5 linked regions of the Homo sapiens genome follow. The protein of the gene in region 3 purifies or fractionates together with the protein of the main gene of each other region. This does not show direct contact. Each region holds a gene or a part of one and is shown on either strand. Other genes may lie near its edges.

Evidence for each region.
Region 1: the proteins of DNA2 (region 3) and GLRX3 purify together in Homo sapiens (affinity purification with mass spectrometry; one large-scale study listed by BioGRID and IntAct). This does not show direct contact.
Region 2: the proteins of DNA2 (region 3) and PASK purify together in Homo sapiens (affinity purification with mass spectrometry; one large-scale study listed by BioGRID and IntAct). This does not show direct contact.
Region 4: the proteins of DNA2 (region 3) and PRKACB purify together in Homo sapiens (affinity purification with mass spectrometry; 2 studies listed by BioGRID and IntAct, with this or other methods). This does not show direct contact.
Region 5: the proteins of DNA2 (region 3) and IARS2 purify together in Homo sapiens (affinity purification with mass spectrometry; one large-scale study listed by BioGRID and IntAct). This does not show direct contact.

Annotation. Positions count from the first base shown.
Region 1 is NC_000010.11:130,173,619-130,178,320, reverse strand, and holds part of GLRX3 (glutaredoxin-3), read right to left. Parts: intron 3,455-4,702; coding exon 3,415-3,454; intron 3,325-3,414; coding exon 3,232-3,324; intron 1-3,231. UniProt on the Homo sapiens protein: Together with BOLA2, acts as a cytosolic iron-sulfur (Fe-S) cluster assembly factor that facilitates [2Fe-2S] cluster insertion into a subset of cytosolic proteins.
Region 2 is NC_000002.12:241,108,536-241,113,283, forward strand, and holds part of PASK (PAS domain-containing serine/threonine-protein kinase), read right to left. Parts: intron 3,905-4,748; coding exon 3,705-3,904; intron 364-3,704; coding exon of another isoform or gene 164-363; exon of another isoform or gene 1-163. UniProt on the Homo sapiens protein: Serine/threonine-protein kinase involved in energy homeostasis and protein translation. Phosphorylates EEF1A1, GYS1, PDX1 and RPS6.
Region 3 is NC_000010.11:68,413,564-68,416,768, reverse strand, and holds the end of DNA2 (DNA replication ATP-dependent helicase/nuclease DNA2), read left to right. Parts: coding exon 1-60; intron 61-1,661; coding exon 1,662-1,730; 3' UTR 1,731-2,705; downstream 2,706-3,205. UniProt on the Homo sapiens protein: Key enzyme involved in DNA replication and DNA repair in nucleus and mitochondrion.
Region 4 is NC_000001.11:84,195,211-84,200,521, forward strand, and holds part of PRKACB (cAMP-dependent protein kinase catalytic subunit beta), read left to right. Parts: intron 1-1,405; coding exon 1,406-1,532; intron 1,533-2,518; coding exon 2,519-2,614; intron 2,615-5,311. UniProt on the Homo sapiens protein: Mediates cAMP-dependent signaling triggered by receptor binding to GPCRs.
Region 5 is NC_000001.11:220,131,010-220,136,320, reverse strand, and holds part of IARS2 (isoleucine--tRNA ligase, mitochondrial precursor), read right to left. Parts: intron 1,920-5,311; coding exon 1,811-1,919; intron 1-1,810.

The sequences.
Region 1 (4,702 bases), about 62 Mb from region 3:
AGCCAAGATTGCACCACTGCACTCCAGCCTGGGTGACAGAGTGAGACTCTGTCTCGAAAAAAAGGAAGAAAAAAAAAGCAGTGTGACGTTAAAAGTCTACTCAAATATGATGCTTGTTCCCCTCCCGTTCTTCCACTCACAGAGAGGAATCAGGCTTTGCTATTGAAACCCAACCTGGCAACACATCTCTGCCTCAGGAAAAGCTAGAGTACCAGTAAGAGGGAAAGGCAGAAACCATTAAAAAGACCTAACAATTCAGAAACAGACATGGCATCAAAAGAGCTACCACCAGGTTGACTGGAACTGCAGTACAGGCGCCATGCTCCTTGTGCCTGTTTTTCAGATTTAAAATCTGGATTATAGACACCAAGCTTGAAAGGACAGACATGATAAATAAGATTTTCTGGTTTAAAGAAACATTTAGTATGATATAACATTTCAGGTTATCACTGAACAGCATAAACATCAATCAATAAAACCATTAAAATCCGTATGACCTCCTCTGGATGAAATTCAAATAGGAATGATGCTGTCACACAAAACCCAGACGGCTTTCAGTCATGTCTAGGGATCTTCTTCTACCTACTCAACAAGCAGACACCCTGCCCCTCCAAGGGACCCAGCAGGACTTTTCTGAGCACACACTCAAGAAGGCACGGAGAGGACCACGCAGCTGAGTGGGCAAGGGCAGGTGGCCCTCAGGTGGAATCTGGACTCAATGGCTTACTAGTTATGGGATGGTGGACAATTCACCTGACCTCTCTATGTCTCTGTTTCCTCATCTACTGACTAAGAAGAATTCTGCTCTCTGAGGCTGCTTGGGAGATTACGTGAAGCAGCCTCTTAAAGCACCAAAGCAGTGTGCCTGGAACATTGGGAGCGCGCCAAATAAGGCAGTCCTCGCCACCCTCACTGCTGTTAATGCGAGCCGGCAGGTGGAAAGTCTAAACCTAACCAAATCTTCTATCTCTCTCAACAAACTGTCTTAAGTCCAAACATTCTGGAACAGCAGTAGTGAACCGTTTACTCTTCAGAGGCAATAACAACTCACAATTTTCTCAGGACACTAGATTAGCTGAGTAACTAAATCATCATTCAGTCCCTCATTCAACAAAACAAACGCTCATTGCTCCAAAGAGGCCAGCCAGATTAGACCATTTCAAACATCTTTTAATTGAACTGAACATGAAGAACTGCATTCTGCAAGAAACAGATCAAAATGGGATCGTAAGATCTATTCCATATATCTTCTCAAGGAAAAACGTTAACAATATCACACATTTCAAACGTATATGTTCTTAGCAGGTGAACATAAAAAATCATATAACACTCTGTTATATAACTAAAAAGAAGTTACCCACGCAGCTTAGCTTTAGAATTAAATGAGATTTATTGATTGTATCTTCCCAAGAGTTACCAATGGCTAAGGTACAGGCTATAAAACATTCAGACAAGAACAGGCTCAAGAGTATTTGGGGTTTGAGTATTCTTTGTGTCTTACAAAAATAAGACTATATATATATATATAGAGAGAGAGAGAGAGAGAAAGAGGGAGGGAGGGAGGGAGGGAAGGAGGGAGGGAGGGAAGAAACAAATGCAGATCTGTTTCTGCTGCTTCAGGGCTATTCAAGAGCAATAGTCTTAAAAATTTTTTCCTCCAGGAGTGAGACCATTCCCCAGGAAAAATGTCTCACTGGCTTGTTTAAGAAGTATGATATCAAACCTGGAACTCCACAGGAAACAAAACCTACACAGAGGCCACCAAAGGACAAAAAGAGCCTCTGCATCAATGGAACTCAAGCTTTGTTTTTATAAAACATATTGGTCCAAAGTGCTGATGTCATTTCAGTGGTAGGCTAGTGCTTCACTTTACAAAAGCACGTGTTAAAAACTTTTATTTTGGCCAGGCGCGGTGACTCATGCCTGTAATCCCAGCACTTTGGGAGGCCAAGGTGGGCGGATCACCTGGGGTCAGCAGTTCAAGACCAGCCTGGCCAACATGGTGAAACCCCATCTCTACTAAAAATACAAAAATTAGTGGGGCGTGGTGGCGGGTGCCTGTAATCCCAGCTACTCAGGAGGCTGAGGCAGGAGAATCACATGAACCTGGGAGGCAGAGGCTGCAGTGAGCCGAGATTGCACCATTGCACTCCAGTGGGGAACAAGAGCGAAACTCTCTCAAAAAAAAATGTAAAAAAAAAAAAAAAACTTTTATTTTACAACATAACTAGAAGTAGTACTACTTGCTATTTGTTTTCCACATAAAAAGTCGAAGATCTGACCTCAGAAAATTCTCTCATGGATTGAGGCAAGAGGAAGGCCTGAGGGCAGTCAGCAACCCACTTTTCGGGGCAGTTTTGTTCATGCCCCTGAGCAGACCCTGGCATTCCTGCCCAGCATTCCTGTCTAGCTCCTCTCTATACCCAACCAGCTACCACCCTCCTCGATGCCACCATGCCCACAGTGGGCCTGGGGTGCAGTGGGGTCTGTGTGTAGATATTAAAGCTACAGCTTCTGTTTATTGTTTTGGGCTAATCAAAGAGCTACAGAGCACACAGGTGTTAGTTGGTGGGCCTGCCCTGAATTCTAGACATTAAATACATGCAAAGTAACGTCCATTTAAAACTCAATCAAGAAGTAAAGTCACTTATCCATCCAACAACCATTTACTGAACTCCTAAAATACACAAAGCATCAGGAAGGACTCAAGATACATAAGAAATGGTGTCTTATCTAAAACACAATCTAACAGATAACAGATTTCCAAGCATCTCAAAACCAAAAAGGACCTACATTTTTTCTTTCGGGGGACCAGGGGCAGTGATCCTCAGCCTCTGTGGCAAGGATGGGCAGCACCGGGCCACAGGCCTCACACTGCTGTCACTCCATGCACCCAAGGGCAGATGAGTAAGGCAAGAAAAAACAATTTGTTGTCTGGGAGCTGAAGCAGGATCTAACAAGGACCCTGAGTGACAGGGAAGATCACCCCACAGAAAGGAGATGCAATGGTTAGCTCAGGTGTGAAAGTAAGAACAGGCTGCCACGTGGGGACAGTGAGAATGGCAGGGTAGTCATGCACACAGAAACGGTGATACTGGTCTAGAAATGTCTGAGAGTCAGGCTGGAAACAGGAGTCAAAAACAACTCTCAAGTTTCCATTCAATATGAAATCATTTTTAAACATACCAAAATCTTTTCCGTTCTTTAGAACAGCAGAAGAACTGGCCTTACCTTCACAATATCCAATCCTCCCACCAGCTCCCCTTTCACATACAGCTGAGGGTATGTTGGCCAATTTGAGTAAGCTTTTAATCCTTGCCGAACCTAAAGAAACAACAGGAATCCTGAAACCATCCTATCAGGCCCTTAAGATTAAAGCTAAGACAAGGGTGAAACATCAAACACAGAACTTACTTCTTCATCCTCCAATATATCGAATGTTTCATATTCAACACTGCAAAAAAGAGAAGACATTTTAACTGGAAATACAGTTAAATCAAAGTGTAAAACCTCTATGCATTTGATGTTTTTAAAATAATCAAGAAAACCGTTTCACTGCTAACAAAATGTACTACAGACCAATGGAAATGATTTTACTTCTTAATCTGTCTGGTACTACACAGAATTAGTCATTCCAACATATGACTTTATCTGGATTTTTCTCCGGACAATATTGGGTTAGACCAGGGGTGGGCAAACTTCTTCTTAAAGAGTCAGACACTAAACACTTCAGGCTTTACAGGCCAGACAGTCTCTGCTGCAACTGCTCAGTTCTGCTCTCTGCTGCAACTGTCAGCATAAAAGCAGCCACAGACAATGTATAAATGAAGGGATGTGGCTATGTGCCAATATAACTTTATTTACAAAAATGGGCAGCCAGCTGCAACTTGCCAACCCCTGGATCAGACCCACACCCCCATCTGCACGAGCCTTCATTAACTGAACACTCTTACCCACTTCTAATGTCTAACCCACCCCAGGCTGCTGCTTCTTAACCTCCTGGAAGCTGCCCGTGCAGCAGGATGTAGTAGTGCTCGTGGACGGAGGCTGGAGGGCTCAGCAGCCGGATAACAACCACGCTGCCAGCTCCCTCCACCTTAGCAAGAGACATGCTTTCCACACTTAAACTTATTTCAGAGAGGGTGCTGTTTTTAATGTACAAAAGGCCAATGAAAGCTTTGTGGCTTTATACCATACAATGAACATTACTTGTACAAAAAATGAAAAATCACTGCATGAATATCCAACTGTATCCACTCAGAGCGATTTCACCGTTAGGTGGTCAGGTATTAGCAAGCATGTATGCCTAAATCCTTGCAGGGTGCCTGAGGGTACAGGTGCAATTCCCAAAGGTGGCCAAAGAAAATGCTACATGTAAAAAAAACTGGACTTTCCATAAAACTGAAACCATCATAGGGAAATCTTGTTTATTTAGTAAACAAGTTCCCAAGGAAACTGTCTATGGTACAGGGAACAGTCAAAAAAACTAAATGACGGGATAAATCAGAAGCAATTACCAAAAAAGGAATGTTTGAAAGAAGAACAAAAAAAGACCCCAATGTAAACCTAATGCTTTTTAAAAACCCCAATGTAAGTCTTTGTTCAAGTTGAACTAAAGGTGGCAGATCTCTTAATACTGTGATAAAAACAATGAGTTATACAACTATTCATAAAGGATCCAGGAAGCACTGGGCCCAAGTGT
Region 2 (4,748 bases), on a different chromosome or scaffold from region 3:
TCAGGAACTTCCTTGTGGACACCAACCACAAGACGTGTCTACCAGAGGGGGGAGCGGGGGGAGGGCTTCCTGGAGGAAGCAGAGTACACGTCCATTGGCTTTGCTGAGGGCCACGGGAGCTGCAGGCCACTTCAGAACAGGGTCACGTGCCCTTCAGACGTGATCAGGCATGTTCACGATCTTGGTGTGAACGGGCTTGGTGTGACCATGGACACACATGCCCTTTAGGAAGATGGCTGTGGCGACGATGTGAAGGGTGCTGCAGGACGAGACTGAACAGGGAAAAACACCGAAGGATGAAAGCAAACAAGAAGGACGTGGTGAAGGTGGGTGTTCACACAGTGGGCCAAATGGAGGAGCAAGCTTCAGGGAGAAGACACCCAAAGGACTATTGTTACTTCCTGTCGCCGTAAACATCCTCATCCACGCTACCATTTATTTCCTGTCACCGTAAACATCCTCATCCACGCTACCATTTATTTCCTGTCACCGTAAACATCCTCATCCACGCTACCATTTATTTCCTGTCGCCGTAAACATCCTCATCCACGCTACCATTTATTTCCTGTCACCGTAAACATCCTCATCCATGCTACCATTTATTTCCTGTCACCGTAAACATCCTCATCCATGCTACCATCTATTGGGTACCTAGAGATGCCAATGCTGTACCAGCATTTTACATGGCTTAACCCAAATCCTCACAACAACCTAGCAAGATAAATATGACTTTCATTTTGCACAGAAGAGCAAGGCTTGGTGAGGTGAAGTTGCTGCCAAGCACGCACCAGAGCCAGGTCACCAGCACCCACAGCCCTGCCCCTGCACTGGCCAAGGCCATGCGTCTCCAGGTCCGCAGCTGGGGGTCTGTCCCCAGAAGAGGTCTGGGAAGCAGCAGCCTGTTCTCAGAACCAGAATTAGACAAGGGAGCCAAGAGAAACCACAGCAGTGAGAAGAGTGGCACGGACAGAGCCCCGGGCTGGACTCGGAGAAGAGGGGCTGGGAGGGAGGGGAGGGGAGGGGAGGGGAGGGCTCAAGAGGGCAGATCACAGAGGCCAGAGCAGCAGCGTGGGTGAAAGTCGGGCCCCCAGGCTGAGTCAGCAGGGTGGTGGGGTGGCTAGCACAGACCGCAGGGAAGCTGAGCGGACGGATGAGAGCTGTAGGGGCTAGAGCAAGAAAATCAGTTTCAGCAGTTTTTGTTTTTGTGTTGTTTCTGTTTTTTAGAGAGATTTCAAGATGTTTAGAAGCTGAAGAGAAATATCCAATAGAACAGAACAGAGGTTGGCAAACTTTTCCTGTGAAGGGTCAAATAGTAAATATTTCAGGTTTTGGGCCACATGGTCCCCACTGCAACTCAACTCTGTCATGTAGGACAAAGGCAGCTACAGACGACACATAAGCAAATGAGCACAGCTCCATTCCAATAAAACTTTATTTATAGAAACAAGAGGCAGGGGATGTTTGCACACACGTTTGTAGCAGCATCACGAACAACATAAAGATGGAAGCAAAAGGTAGAAGCAACACAAATGTCCACTGACAGATGAATAAGTACAGCATATCCAGAAAACGCAATCAAATTCAGCCTTGAAAAGGAAGATGCTGGCACAGGCCACAACATGGATGGACCTTGAGGACTTTATGCAAAGTGAAATAAGCCAGTCACCAAAAGGCAAATGCTGTACGATTCCACGTATAGGAGGTCCCTAGAGTAGTCAGATTCATAGAGAAAATAGCAGAATGGCAGCTGCCAGGGCCTGAGGAAGGGGAAGAGGGACCTAAGGCCACAGTCTGCCGACCCTGGAGTAGACGGAGATGAAGATGACAAGACAGAAGCCAGGGCCCTGAGGATGGGATTGAGAATAAGAACTCAGAAACCCTTTCATCCAGGGAGATGGGGAGAGGACGCAGGAGGGAGGAAGGAGCTCCTGAGAGGAGGCCTGCAGCCCCGCAGGCCCAGGAGCAGTACACCGCTCACAGCCAGAAAGGAGAGGCCAGGAGGCAGGGCAGAGCCCTGGCAGGGCAGGCGCTCAGGGAGAGGGTGGGAGCCACAGCTCTGGGAGGCAGGGCCAAGGTGGCCAAGCAGCACTGAGCTCTCGCCCAGGTTGGATCCCCCCTGCACCCTCCCCAAGCTTCACGGCCTGGGTACAGGAAGGGGTGACAAGCCATGCAGCAGGCATCATGGGTCAGTGGACAGGGGACAGGCAGTTCCCTCCAGCACGGAGGGCACGACAACCACTGCAGGGCAGGCAGAGCCCACCAGCGCCCACCAGGCTCTAGGGCAACCAAACTAGATCTGAAGGGAAACTCCACGGCCCTTCTTAGACCAACCCCCTTCGATATTTCACGCTGTTTGGTGGCTCTGAAGATGCATGGAGGTTCTAGCGGGGAAGAGCCCATTTTCACTTCCTCCATACTCTGCACACAGGGCATCCAGGCCCAGAAGAGCTCAACGCTGCCTGGCATGGAGAGGTTGGCGCAGGCTGAGGCTGCTGGGCTCTGAGGACTCAGGGTGTGCAGCCTGGAACCTGCACCTCCTAATGAAATATGGCCTAAGCAGACACCAGGATCCAGAGCCCAGCCACTCCTCTCCCCAATGCTGAGGCCCTCCCGAGAGCCCAAGGCACGGCATGGAGCTCGTGCGTGACTGCGAGCAAATGCCCTGGCCTCAGGCCACCAGGTCAGGTGCAGCAGGTCTGTGAGGGACCCCGTGTGCCTCTCCTGTGGGGGCAGCATCAGCTTCCCTCCTAGAGAACCACATGGAGCAGATATGGGCGGTGCAGCAGAGCACTGCAGCAGAGGGCCAGGAGGGTCCAAGCAGTGCTGTGATCATCCGACTCTCTAACCATGAACTCACCTAGAGATGCATTCCAACCACACCTCTCTAAAATACATGTAGGTGTTAGTGGAAAACACCTGCTATCTATTTCTGACTTAATAAAGTCTATTTCATACACATAGACACATTTGGTTTACAGGCAGATGAGACAGTGATCGGGCACGTCAGCAGACAGTCTCCACTCAGGCCCTACAAATGAACCACAATCTTCCTTTCCGTTTTGCTTTCCTCTCTAAAGTCCCCCGAGAGGAGGCCCTGCCCAGGCCGGCCCCCGACTCACAGGCTCCCCAGACTGCAGAGATGCAAACTCAGCCACACACCCAAGGACGCCGCTTCTCCCCACAGCAGAGCAGAGGCTCAGCTGGCCCACTCCAGTGACATGGAGTCTGGCTGGTCAGCGACAGCCCCTCCAGCCAAGGGCTCCACCTTCAGCACGAATCCTCTGCCTCGGGACTTTCTCTAGTGCTTGATTTCTTGTATGGTCAGCCCCGCGGTATTTTATTGAAATAGATATTATTCCTGTCATCAAAATAAATAAACCTAACTAAAAAGAATCCTCTTCACTTATTTGAAGAGTGCCATTTTGGGGGACTCTTCAATATTTTTCTTGGCTTTTTATTATATGAAACTCCAAACAAATAAAAGCTGAGAAAATAAAATTATTAACTCCTATATCCATCGCCCAGTGCCTTTGCCCAATATGACCTTGCCTGCCTGCCCACTTACTTTCCAGCATATCACCCTGACCACTCAACACTCATCACAAAGAGGCACAAAGGAAGCCATTTTCCCACCCAAAATCAAGCCACCCTCAGGGTCCTGACAGAGGACACGAGGACGGGCCGCACCGCAGCCGCATACGTACGGATTCCCCATGAGAACTTCCGGTGCACAGTACTCGATGGTCCCACAAAAAGTATAAAATAATTTTCCCCTTTCCAAGTAGGCGGCCGAGCCAAAGTCTATCAGCTTGATTGTGAAGTCCTCGGCGATCACGATGTTCTCATCCTTGATGTCACGGTGGATGATGTCCTTCAAGCGCAGGTATCCCACTGCTGACACTAGCTGGAATCAGGAGGCCAGAGGGGGCTTTTTAAAAAAGCAATTCAACTAAAATATGCATTTAAAATAAACTGGAACAAAAAAAAACACAAAGAAAAAATAAACCTCCGACTCATAATGAACTGGGGACAGGAAAGATTTTTCAATGCTGAAGATATGATTGGAAGCAAACAGGAAACAAAGCCCTTCAGGAGGCGTGTTCACTGGGGATGGCCACGTTAGCCGGCAAGGTGGCAACATCAATGAGACTCGTGAGTTCTGTTTGCTGCTGAGAAAAGCTTCCCAGCAGACACTCGCCCCCACCAACGCACACCATGCCTATTTCAGGAGGAAAGACAGGCCACAAAGCCACAGCTCAAAGACACTCATGGTGGGCAAGTGAATGGGTGCAGGTTTGGTGTTAAGTGGGAAGTACCCAAGAGAAAGCACCAAGTCGATAACCTCAGCTCACAGGGAGGGAAAGTGACTTGCCCAGAGTTCAGGCAGCAATTTGGGGCAGAGCTGGGAGCACAGCCTCAGTGGCTTCTCAGAGAGCAGCATGACGTATCAGCCATCCTTTCCCCAAATGTGTGGCTACTCAATGATGCAGACTTAAAGCAGTTACACTGGAAACGGGCTTCGTTCCCACGGAGGTGCAGCTGCAGTGCTCCACTGCCTGCCCACTCTGCCTCTCCAATAACAGAGGCCAGCAACATCGGCCTTTCAGTTTAGCTCAACTAGGATGAATTAAACGTCTGACTGTCATAATTTGGACACCCATTATACCAATCAACTTAGTGACTTCATGGATGTATCATGTTGATCTTTTGAGACAAATTTATATTTACAAATGAGTATCTTTCAAATC
Region 3 (3,205 bases):
TCACTAAATTGCTATCCTCCTTTGGAGAAGCTGCTTAATCATTTAAACTCAGAAAAATTAATATCCTTTTTCTTCTGTATATGGTCACATTTGATTGCACTGTTGTGAGTATTTATTTGCTTGTTTAAATTAAAGCTCTCACTATGTTGCTTAAGCTGGTCTTGAACTCCTGGGCTCAAGCGATCCTCCTGTGTAGGCCTCCCAAAGTGCTGTGATTACAGATGTGAGCCACGGCCCCCAGCCTATAACCCTTTTTTAATCCAGAACAAATGATTAGATTAAAATGGAGTATTATTTATTTTATATACAGGGCCTTGCTTTGTCACCCAGGCTGCAGTGCAGTGATATGATCAGAGCTCACTGCACCCTCAATCTCCCAGGCTAAAGTGATCTTCCTACCTCAGCCTCCCCAGTAGCTGGGCCCACAGGTGCATTCCACCATGCCCAGCTAATTTTTGTATTTTTTTGTAAAGACAGGGTTTCACCATGTTGCCCAGGCTGGTTTTGAACACCTGGGCTCAAGTGATTCACTCGCCTCCTCCCAAAGTGCTGGGACTACAGGTGTCAGCCACCACATTCAGCCTTTTTTTCCCCCAAGAAGTGGTGCCTAACTTCACTCAGGCTGGAGTGTAGTGGCAGGATCACTGCTCACTACAGCCTTGACCTGGACTCAAATAGTCGTCCCACCTTACCTTTCTGAGTATCTGGGACCACAGGTACGTACCACCACGCTTGGCTAATTTTTTAAAATTTTTAATAGAGAGGAGGTGAGCCACTGCACCTGGCCTTAAGATAAATCGTTTTTTAAAAATGTGTATGGGCTGGGCCTGGTGGCTCACACCTGTAATCCTAGCACTTTGGGAGGCTGAAGCAGGTGGATTGCGAGGTTGAGATTGAGACCATCCTGGCTAACATGGTGAAACCCCGTCTCTACTAAAAATACAAAAATTAGCTGGGCATGGTGACGTGTGCCTGTAGTTCCAGCTACTCATGATGCTGAGGCAGGAGAATCGCTTGCACCCGGGAGGCGGAGGTTGTAGTGAGCCGAGATCTAGCCTGGTGGCAGAGCGAGACTCCGTCTCAAAAAACAAAACAAAACAAAACAAAAAAAACAGTGTATGAAGTTCTTAGGCTTCATAAGAACTTCATACTTCTTATGAAGGTATGAAGTAGGCTAAGATAAATAACTCTGAGGCTGGGCGTGGTGGCTCACGCTTGTAATCCCAGCACTTTGGGAGGCTGAGACAGGCGGACTACCTGAGGTTGGGAGTTCGAGACCAGCCTGACCAGCATGGAGAAACCCTGTCTCTACTAAAAATACAAAATTAGCCGGGCATGGTGGCACATGCCTGTAATCCCAGCTACTCGGGAGGCTGAGGCAGGAGAATCTCTTGAACCCAGGAGGCAGAGGTTGCGGTGAGCTGAGATCGCACCATTGCACTCCAGCCTGGGTAACAAGAGTGAAACTCCATCTCAGAAAAAAAAAAAAAAAAGATAAATAACTCCTGTTGCTTAAAGGCATAATTATTCATTGAATGCCATAAAGATCCTTATTTTTTTTTTGTGGTCCTGTAAGTCAAATTACAAAATGTTAAATAATAATGTCATAAATTTATGCCATTCCATATTGTGCTAAATATTTCTTCCTTAATTTATTTTACATCATTGATCTTCCATCAAGAGAACATGAAAGTCTTTGCCACATATTGGGTGACTTTCAAAGAGAATAAAACACTATTTCCCTTGCCTTTTCATACTAGGGCAGTATCTCCTCTAGCTAGTGCCCATACAGAAAATTCTATCACCATACAAAATTTAATGCAGTATTTATGTTTTAAAGCACAGGTGTACCGAAAACTGTGAAAAGTCTGAATTTATGGGTTCTATGCATGCATTTTTGCCTAACCTAGAGAAAGAGTTTGATAAATTTTTACCAGCTTTGAAGATGGATTAACTTTTGACTTTGAGCTTTAAACTTTTAAGTCAGACATTTCAGGACTAATTTGATTTTGTAGATATCATTGTAAGAACTTTATTTGAAAGACTGAATAAAGGGATTTGATTTGTTTTCATCATTTAAGCACAGTCTTGTGATGATGAGAACATAAGTGTGATTCTTTTCTGTATTTTGAGGTCCCTAATCCAAAGCCCATTTTGCTAGGATTTTTTCTGCTATCAGATGTGTTTTCACTCTAAACCTAGTCTTTTATGACATGAATTGATTACTTCCTGTTAATTTTCTATCCTCCCTTACTATCCTCCTTTTTTGTTTTCAGTATTCAGTATTTCAGTATTCTAGAGTAGATTTTGATATAAAAGAAAATAATTCTTACATCATCTTTTGCAACAAATTTTGTTTTCTGAATTGATAATAAATTTAAAAAGTTGATTCCTATTTTCACATATGTTCATATGCCCCTATGTTTGGGGGTATCACTCAGTTTTCCCTTTTTTGTGTAAAGATGTTTTGTAAAACAAAATTGTCTCAAAGTGATTATATTATATATATAAAAAGTAACAGATTTTAACAAAGGTTAAAAGATTCTTGGGGTAACAGATTCTTCTGGGGCTTGGAAATCTTCCATTTCTCTTGAGGGTTTTTTTTAATGAGTGTTAAATATGTTAAAATTTTTATTTCTACCTCATGTGTTTTTTTAAATTATTACTTGAAGTTTTTTATTTAATAAATTTTTTCTACTAATGGATCTTAACTGTGTCAATTATTATTAATACTGAATAATAATTAAACTCAGGGTTATCTAGCATGTTTTGTTTTTTTTTTTTTTGAGACGGAGTCGCCCAGGCTGGAGTGCAGTGGTGCGATCTTGGCTCACTGCAAGCTCTGCCTCCCGGGTTCACGCCATTCTCCTACCTCAGCCTCCCGAGTAGCTGGGACTACAGGTGCCCGCCACCACGCCTAGCTAATTTTTTTTTTTGTATTTTTAGTAGAGACGGGGTTTCACCATGTTAGCCAGGATGGTCTCCATCTCCTGACCTCGTGATCCACCCACCTCGGCCTCCCAAAGTGCTGGGATTACAGGCGTGAGCCACCGCGCCCGGCCGCATGTTTTCTGATAGTGACAAGTGAAGTATTGATCATGCTAGAAAGCTGAAACCAAGCAGCATTGATATTATAAAGAGATTTATGAAGGGCACACAGGATGGGCTTGATCATGGAGAGGGGTTATAGATTAGATAGGACAAA
Region 4 (5,311 bases), on a different chromosome or scaffold from region 3:
GTGGATTGACAGTGTTGGGATGAAGCTGAAACTGGAAGGGTATTATAAAATTTTGCTCCCCAAAAGCATTTTTCTTTACATATGCATTCTTTCAACAAATATTTACTGAGCACTTGGGAAATGCAGTGACAAGCAAAAAAAGGCAGCACATAAAGTCTTTTGTTGGAATTTGTATTTCTCTTGCTACCAGATCAAATTCATACCAACCATCTTGAGGGAAATCCTATTCATAGTTAAGGTTGTTCACTGAGGAAACAAATCTGAAAGTCATTGTTATTTATCAGGCAGATTAGTAGAATTCAAGTAATACATTAGAAGATAAATTAGAAACTCAGAAAATTGGTACATCCTTTTGGATTTTTCAGATTCTGACATCAAAATTACACTGATCTATTAATCTAATATATACATAAAAGAACTAGCTGGGTGCGGTGGCTGACTCCTGTAATCCCAGCACTTTGGGAGGCTGAGGCGGGTGGATCATTTGAGGTCAGGTATTCGAGACCAGCCTGGCCAACATGGTGAAACCCCGTCTCTACTGAAAATACAAAAATTAGCCGGGCATGGTGGTGGGCGCTTGTAATCCCAGCTACTCAGGAAGCTGAGGCAGAAGAATCGCTTGAACCCAGGAGGCGGAGTTTGCAGTGAGCCAAGATTGTGCCACTGCACTCCAGCCTGGGCAACAGAGCAAGACTGTGTCTCAAAAAAAAAAAAAAAGAACTGTACGTATTTACACTAACATAGAGATTATACTTATGTCTGTGAATCTATGTAAACAAGCATAGTAAAAGATTTGGAAATTCTGATGCCAAGATTGTATCTATGGTTTCTGAATAGGTTTATGAGTATTCATTATTCTTCATCAATATTTTATGATATTTTTCCATAACGAGCGTATGTCATTTTTGTAACAGGAACTATTACAAAATGGGTAAAATGGCATTAATCTGCAGATAAATGCAGCTAAAGAGCTTCTACATAGGGAAATTCTATAAACACTTGAAATTTGTGAGAAAAGTAGATGGAGCCTGTTAACTATAGCAGTGGCCCCGATAGACACTCCATTTGGCACATTTGCTTTCCAATTATTCTCAAGATCAGACATAATTAGAAAGACATCAATATATTTAAATATGGGCAATAATGATTCACAATGAGCTAACTATTTTAGGTTTATATTTTTCCTCAACATATGCTTCCCCATAAATTTATCAGAGCGTTATTTGAACAAAATATAGAGATTTAATAAATATTTGAAAAGTAACAAGGTTCTTTACATACTTTTTAAAAAAATACTTTTTGTTCCCAAAGTACCTCTACTTCATATTAGTTTTTATGCATAATCTACTAATTAGAATGTATTAACTCATTTTTACAGAAAATCAATGGTTTTATTTCTTTGCAGTGAGCCCCATGCACGGTTCTATGCAGCTCAGATAGTGCTAACATTCGAGTACCTCCATTCACTAGACCTCATCTACAGAGATCTAAAACCTGAAAATCTCTTAATTGACCATCAAGGCTATATCCAGGTATGACTTTAACACATTATGTGTACTGTATATGAGAAAATACTAGGCAAGACATTGTATGTATGTAACCCCAACTTGGAATTTTTTTTGAAGAAGACACTTTCTCCTAATAGTTTAAGTAGAGCTCAGAGTTTTGCTGCTATTACAGAGAAGCAAAAATCCTGTTATGAAAGGAACTTGTTTATATCTCCATTAATCTATAGTTGTGAACTGAGTATAGCCTCTTGCATAAGGAGATATTAATAGCTAAATCTATGAGCAGTTATTAGTGCCAGGCATATTCCACTTGTTTTACATGTATTATTTCTTTAATCCTGATAAACCTATGAAGTGGAAATACCATTGTTATCTTCATTTTAAGATTAACAAAACTAAGACATAGCAAGGTCATTTAGCCAATAAATGGTAGAGTCAGAATTTGAACCTAGGCAGTCTGATCCCAGAGTCCATGCCCTTTACGACTACAATATAACTGCCAAAGAATCCCTGACTACCAATACTGAACTCGTAGCAACGTTTTCTTTCCACTTCTACTACTAATAAAGTGGGAGCATTTCTTTTTACACAATTATTGATAGATTCTCCCATTGACGTTTTTACACTTCTGATGGTGCAACTAATGGCAGAGGACACATTGGGGTAAGGCAGACATTTAGCATTGTTTCATTTTTATTAATGCTATTTATTTTTACCTTTTATTTTCACTTTTTTATTCCTTGGGTCTAGGATCTTATAATAATGACTGAAAAGAGTTTTGTTGTTATTAATTTGTTCCTTTTCTTTGAGTTGAGGAAGGATTTCCAACTTGGATTGTTTAAACTTTCATTCACTAGATATTCATGAATGAATTTCAATTACGTGGACTTAATTTTTTTTCCATTTCTTTCATAGTTTCAATTTGAATTTTAAACTTTCAACGTAGGTGCAATAAATACATTTATTGTGAGGTAATACATTTTCACTAGTATTCTTTTTTTCTTTTATAGGTCACAGACTTTGGGTTTGCCAAAAGAGTTAAAGGCAGAACTTGGACATTATGTGGAACTCCAGAGTATTTGGCTCCAGAAATAATTCTCAGCAAGGTATATTCATAATATCAACACATAAGAAGTAGAAATATGAGACATGCATCCCTATGGACTTTTGTAAAAACAGTTTATTGATCTAATTTTACATTTTTAATTTGATCTAAGTTATGAATTTAAATCTATTTGTGCATGATTACTAAAGAATTATTATTTAGCATCTACCACTAATCCTGTAACCTCTGTCAATTTTAACTCTGGGTCTTAGAGATATAATATGAATAAATATGACCTCTAGATCCATGTTTTGCAACCAAAAACATAGTCTTTTCTTAATTATTCCTAGTAACGGAAGGGTAGAGAAGACTTGCTCTGGATTATACCAAGAGGTAAATCTAGAGATGATATGTACTAGTTGTCCATTCTTTCTTTGTTTCAAATTTACCAGTTAAATAAAAGGAATGTATGAGAAGTGTTTTTAAATTTTAAATAGGACTATTAACAGCAATTGAATAGTTTTAGTCTTATTGAAGGCAGCTCTGCTTTTCTAAATAGTGAAACGTGGTGAGAGAAACTGTACCTATATCCAAAAGAATGGTTAACTTTTCCTCTGCCATCACTTGGTGGAGAAATCTAGAAAGGAGAACCTAACAATAACCAGGCACAAATAGGAGAGAGGAAAAGGAAGGGGATAAGACACATGCTTCACTGGTTCCCAAATGGAATCATTGAAATATGGCTAACTTATAGAAGTGTTAAAATAAAAGATTTCTTTCAACTTTTCTCTCATTATCTTTCATAATTTAAATAATATGTAACTTCTTGATATTTTATAATCTAAATATCATTGTAGTTAACACATTTCTTTAAATACAGTTAACAAATAATGGGACAACAAAATGAGCACTAAAACTTTTACAAATGTGTATATATTGTAAAAGTAATACTCATTATACAAAATTTAGAAAATACAGAAAAACATAAACAAACAACCAAAAAAAAACCTATATGTAATCCCACCAACCTAGACGCAGCCTTTTTAAAAACATTCATATATGTATGTACATATATGTATATATGTGTATATGTGTATATATATACACCACATATATGTGTATATATGTGTATATATATACACATATGTGTGGTGTGTGTGTATATATGTATATGTGTATATATACATATATATTCATATATATGTGTATACGCATATATGTATATATGTATATGTGTATATATACATATATGCGTATATATACACATATATACGCATATGTATGCATATATATATGCGTATATATGCATATATGTATATATATGCGTATATATGCATATATGTATATATATGCATATATATATATATATACACACACATTTTAGCTTTATTTTAGCTTTCATTTTAGGTTCAGGGATACATGTGAAGGTTGGTTACAGACGTAAACTCATGTCATGGGGGTTTGTTATACAGATTATTTCATCACTCAGGAATTAAGCCCAGTACCCATAGTTATCTTTTCTTATCCTCTCCCTCCTCCCTACCTCCACCCTCAAGTAGAATCCAGTATCTGTTTTTTCCTTCTTTGTCTTCATAAATTCTCATCATTTAGCTCCCACTTACAAGTGAAAACATGTGGTATTTGGTTTTCTGTTCTGCATTAGTTTGCTGAGGATGATAGCCTCCAGCTCCATCCATGTTCATGCAAAAGACATGATCTCATTCCTTTTTATAGCTGCATAGTATTCCGTAGTGTATATGTACCACATTTTCTTTGTCTAGTCTACAATTGGTGGACATGTAGGTTGATTCCATGTCTTTGCTTTTGTGAATAGTGCCACAATGAATAAACAAATGCATGTGTCTTTATGATGAAATGATTTATAATCCTCTGGGTGTATACCCAGTAGTGGGATTGCTGGGTCGAATGGTAGTTCTGCTTTTAGCTCTTTGAGGAATCTCCATACTGCTTTCCACAATGGTTGAACTAATTTACACTCCTACCAACAGTGTCTAAGTGTTCACTTTTCTCTGCAACCTTGCCAGCATCTGTTATTTTTTGACTATTTGTTTATTTATTTATTTATTTATTTATTTTCTGGAGATGGAGTCTTGCTCTGTCGCCCAGGCTGCAGTGCAGTGGCGTGATCTCGGTTCACTACAACCTCTGCCTCCTGAGTTCAAGCGATTCTCGTGCTTCAGGCTCCCAAGTAGCTGGGACTACCGGCATGCACTACAACACCTGGTTAATTTTTGTATTTTTTAGTAGAGACAGGGTTTCACCATATTGGTCAGGCTGGTCTTGAACTCCCGACCTCAAGTGGTGCACCCTCCTTGGCCTCTCAAAGTGCTGGGATTACAGGGGTGAGCCACTATGCCCTTCCATTTTTTTACTTTTTAGTAATAGCCATTCTGACTGGTGTGGAATGGTATCTCATTGTGGTTTTGACTTGCTTGCATTTCTCTAATGATCGGTGATATTGAGCATTTTTTCATATCTTTGTTGGCCGCATGTATGTCTTGTTTTAGAAAGTGTCAGTTCATGTCCTTTGCCCACCTTTTCATGGGGTTGTTTGTTTCTTGTAAATTTGTTTAAGTTCCTCATAGATGCTGGATATTAGACCTTTGGCAGATGCATATGGTTTGCAAATATTTTCTCCCATTCTGTAGGTTGTCTGTTTACCGTTGATAGTTTCTTTTGCTGTGCAGAATCTCTTCAGTTTAATTAGATCCCACTTGACAGTGTTTGCTTTTGTTGG
Region 5 (5,311 bases), on a different chromosome or scaffold from region 3:
GTCTCCACTAAAAATACAAAAATTAGCTGGGTATAGTGGTGTGTGCCAGTAGTCCCAGATACTTGGGAGGCTGAGGCATGAGAATCACTTGAACCCAAGAGGCGGAGATTGCAGTGAGCTGAGATCGTTCCACTGCACTCCAGCCTGGGAGACAGAGTAAGACTCCATCTCAAACAAAAAAAGTCATTCTTAGCTCATGTATCACAATAGTCAAACAGTTAACTCTCGACTTACACAAAGGAAAACTTTAGATATTTTCATCACTAAACAGATTATTTTCTGAGCTTCTGCTATGTACTGATTTTATCATTAAAACTAACCAGGTTAGAAAGAGCAAACTACAGAGACAGCAAGGAGATCAGTGGTTGCCAGGGGCCCTGGGGTGGGAGTGGAGATTAGTCACAAATGGGCATGAGAAAACTTTTTAGTGTGTTGGAAATGTTATAAAACCTCTTGTGGTGATAGCGGAAAAACTATATAACTCACTAAAAAAAAAAAAAAAAAAAAATTTTAAATGAAAAAATAAAACCAGGAAAAAGTATGTCTTAAAAAGAGCAGATTATCATCTCAAAATTATTTTCAAAAGACAATTTGAAAAAAATAGGATCTGCCCTTTTACTGGTCTTTAAAACGCATGTTAAGAAACAAAAACATGTAAAAGGGCCAGGCGTGGGGGCTCACGCCTGTAATCCCAGCACTTTGGGAGGCTCAGGAGGGTGAATCCCTTGAGAGCAGGAGTTTGAGACCAGCCTCACCAACATGGTGAAATCCCGTCTCTATTAAAAGTACAAAAATTAGCCGGGCATGGTGGCATGCTCCGTAATTCCAGCTACTCGAGAGGCTGAGGCAGGAGAATCGCTTGAACCCGGGAGACAGAGGCTGCAGTGAGCCAAGATCGCACCACTGCACTCCAGCCTAGGCAATAGAACAAGACTCCATCTCAAAAAAAAAAGAAACATGTGAAATGTTCTGGGATGGGTTTTTATCCTAAGAGAGCCACAATCTTAAGCTAAGCTATTTAGGAATCTTTCTGATTAGTACTTTCACCCACACGTTTGAAAAAGTAATTATGTGTACTAAATGAGAATACCTAATTTAATAAAATTCATGAAAGCAATGTTTCAGTTCACTAGCCACTGTGGATATTACAAATATAAAGGACATCTGCACTCAGGCTGTCTTCTCTCAACCTTGAATATCCTTCCCTACATTCCTCCTAGTCAAGTTTTACCATAGATCAAGATCTAGTTCTAGGCCAGGCATGGTGGCTCACGCCTATAATCCTACCACTTTGGGAGGCCAAGGCAGGAGGACTGCTTCAGGCCAGGAGTTTGGGACCAGCATGGGCAATGGGAGGAGAACGCACCTCTAAAAAAAAATTAAAAATTAGCCAGGTGTGGTGGTGCATGTCTGTAATCCCAGCTACTCAGGAGGCTGAAGCAGGAGGATTGCTTGAGCCAAGGAGACGGAGGCTGCAGCGAGCTCTGACCACACCATTGCACTCCAGCCTGGGTGACTGAATGCGATCCTTTTTCAAAAAAAAAAAAAAAAACAACAACAACAAAGAACTACATAAGTTCCCCCAACTACTCCAGTCAATGCTGACTTTTTCTTCAAAGAGTTATGATCTGCATCACACTCACAAGACACCTTGGTGTTGTCTCCTTTTTCCTTTCTCTTTTTTTACTTCAAATTCTTACAGGACACTGTAAGCAATCAAGAGTGGTGCCTTATCATCTCTGTAGTACTCAGCATAGTGCTTCACACACTGGCAGGTACTCAGCAGGTTGGTTCAGGCATAAATACTTACTTATAAGGTGCTCTCTTCCTTGCTGCCACACTTGTTAATAAGGATGACTGAAACCAACCCCCGAGCTGGTCTTTTCCTTCCAAGTACAAATCTGCTCTTTGGTCAGGACCTCAAAATTAAGTATTAAAAGAAAAAAAAACCCAGAAATTTAAGTTAATTAAAATAGAAAAAGAAGATACTTATTAATAACAATTAGTGGGGAGGAAGGGAAGTAACTTTACAATAGAGAAAACTGACAGATGCCACCTTAACCAAGAAAGTGACCAAAGTTACACATCACCAGTAGTAATGGGACAGAGATGTATCACGTGACTTCTGAAATGATGTACTGAAATAAACACAGTATCCTTTCTGTGATATTCCTACCTAAAATGCATAACGTGGATCTAATCATGACAATGCATCCCACAAACCCAGAGAGACCATCTACAAAATAAACCTGTACTGCATGAATGTCAAGCAATGTCATGAAATGTCATGAAAGACACAGAACAAGAACTAGAGAGACATGACAGTTAAATGTGACATGTGATCTCAGATTAGATCTTGGGTCCTTTTTTTTTTTTCCTCTTTCCACCTAGGAATAAGTTCTATAGACAGTTAACAGTATGGAATCAATGTTAATTCCCTAATTTTGATATCTGTGTTGGTTATGTTAAGAGACTATCCATGTTTTGGGGAAATATATACTAAAATATTGAGATAAAAGATGCATCTTTTCCTCTACATATATATACATAGGATATATAAAGCAACTGTAGCAAAATGTTAATGTTAACGTTGGGAAATCTAGATGAAGAGCATGCTGTAATTCTTCATGATACTTTATGACTTTTCAAAATAAAAGGGTTTTCAAAAAAAAGTAACATGAGGTCGTTGATAAAGATTACATCTATATTTTAAATCTAAACTCACAACTCTCAAAGCCCCCATAATCCCTTTTATTTGTAAAATTATGATTTGTCCTTATGTCCTAAGACTGAAAATTTAGTGTTGTAATCTTCATGTAAGAAAGATTAACTGAGTGGAGGTGGGGAAACAAAATTTAAATAACTGAATCAAACCAATTCAATTGCACCAATATTACTGAGCACTTGTTATATAGCAGGCATTGTGTTAGACCCTGGGGAAATCTGGACTCTGCCTTCTTGGAGCTGACACCTAGTAGGGTAGATTTTATGTTAAGCAAGAAATAACTGTGATGGGGCCGGGTGCAGTGTCTCGTGCCTGTAACCCCAGCCCTTTGAGAGGTGGAGGCTGGCAAATCCTGAGGTCAGGAGTTCGAGACCAGGTTGACCAACATGGCGAAACCCCATCTCTAAAAACACGAAAATTATCTGGGCACGGTGGTGGGCGCCTGTAATCCCAGCTACTTGGGAGGCTGAAGCAGGAGAATCACTTGAACCTGGGAGGTGGAGGTTACAGTGGGCAGAGATTGTGCCACTGCACTCTAGCCTGGGCGACAGAGTAAGAATCTGTCTCAAAAAAAAAAAAGAAAAGAAATAACTGTGATGGGTGTTACCAAGGGGAAAATAAAGAGTTTAATCTAGTCTGTGCAGCCAGGAAAGTCTGAGATAATGTAAGAAGGTAAATGCATATGCAGTGAAAACAAATCTTTAGCTAGACTAAGAAAATAGAAAAGAAGATCCAAATAAACAAAATCAGAAATGAAAAAGGAGACATGGGGCTGGGTGCGGTGGCTCACGCCTGTAAAATCCCAGAACTTTGGGAGGCAAAGGCGGGTGGATCACGAGGTCAGGAGTTCAAGACCAGCCTGGCCAAGATGGTGAAACCCCATCTCTACTAAAAACGCAAACATTAGCCAGGCATGGTGGCGGGCACCTGTAACCCCAGCTACTTGGGAGGAATGAGGCAGAGAACTGCTTGAACCTGGGAGGTGGAGTTTGCAGTGAGATGAGATCAGGCCACTGCACTCCAGTCTGGGCAACAGAGCAAGACTCCATCTCAAAAAAAAAAAAAAAAAAGAGAGAGAAAGGTGACATACAACAGACAACAGAGAAATACAAAGGATCATCACAGACTACTATAAACAAATGTACACTAACACATAGGAAAACCTGGAGGAAATGGATAAACCCCTGGACACATACAACCTACCAAGATTAAACCGGGAAGAAATAGAACAGTAAGGAGTAACCGGACTGAATAAGTAACAAAAAATCTCCCAACAAAGAAAAGTCTAGGACCAGATGGCTTTACTGCTGAATTCTACCAAATATATAAAGAACAACAATTCTGCTCAAACTACTCCAGAGCATCGAAGAGGAGGAAACTCTTCTTAAATCACTGTACAAAGCCAGCATTACCCTGATACCAAAACCAGGCAAAGACACAACAAAAAAGAAAACTACAGGCCAGTATCTCTGTTGAACAAAGACACAAAAATCCTCAACAGGCCACTTGCGGTAGCTCATGCCTGTAATACCAACACTTTGGGAGGCCAAGGCAGGTGGATCATGAGGTCAGGAGATCGAGACCATCCTGGCTAACATGGTGAAACCCGTCTCTACTAAAAATACAAAAAATTAGCCAGGCATGGTGGTGGATGCCTGTAGTCGCAGCTACTCGGGAGGCTGAGGCAGGAGAATTGCTTGAACCTAGGAGGCGGGGGTTGCAGTGAGCTGAGATCGTGCCATTGCACTCCAGCCTAGGCAACAGAGTGAGACTCCATCTCAAAAAAAAAAAAAAAAAAAAAATTCAACGTGGCCAGGCATCGTGGCTCATGCCTGTAATCCCAGCACTTTGGGAGGCTGAGCAGCGCTGATCCCTTGAGGTCAGGAGTTCGAGACCAGCCTGGCCAACATGGTGAAACCCCATCTCTATTAAAAATATAAAAATTGCTGGGCAGAGTGGCTCACGCCTGTAATCCCAGCACTTTGGGAGGCTTAGGCGGACAGATCGCCTGAGGTGGGGAGTTCTGAGTCCAGCCTGACCAACATGGAGAAACCCCGTCTCTACTAAAAATACAAAATTTGCTGGGCGTGATGGCTCATGCCTGTAGTCACAGCTACTTGGGAAGCTGAGGCAGGAGAATCGCTTGAACCCGAGAGGTGGAGGTTGCAGTGAGCCCAGGTCACGCCATTGCACTCCAGCCTGGGCAATAAGAGTGAAACTCCATCTCAAAAAAATTAATTAATTAATTAAAATTAACCGAGTGTGGTGGCACATGACTATAATCCCAGCTACTCTGGAGGCTCAGGCAGGAGAATCACTAGAACTCGGGAGGCGGAGGTTGCAGTGAGCCGAGACTGTGCCACTGCACTCCAGCCTGGGCGACACAGCGAGACTCTGTCTCAAATAAATAAATAAATAAATAAAGATTCAATGCAATTCCATGCAAAATACCAATGATATTCTTCACAGAAACAGAAAAATTCATATGGAAAATTCATCCTAAAATTCATAAGGAAACACAAAAGCCTCCCAAATAGTCAAAGCAATACTGAGCAAAAAGCACAAAGCTGGAGGCATCACACTGCC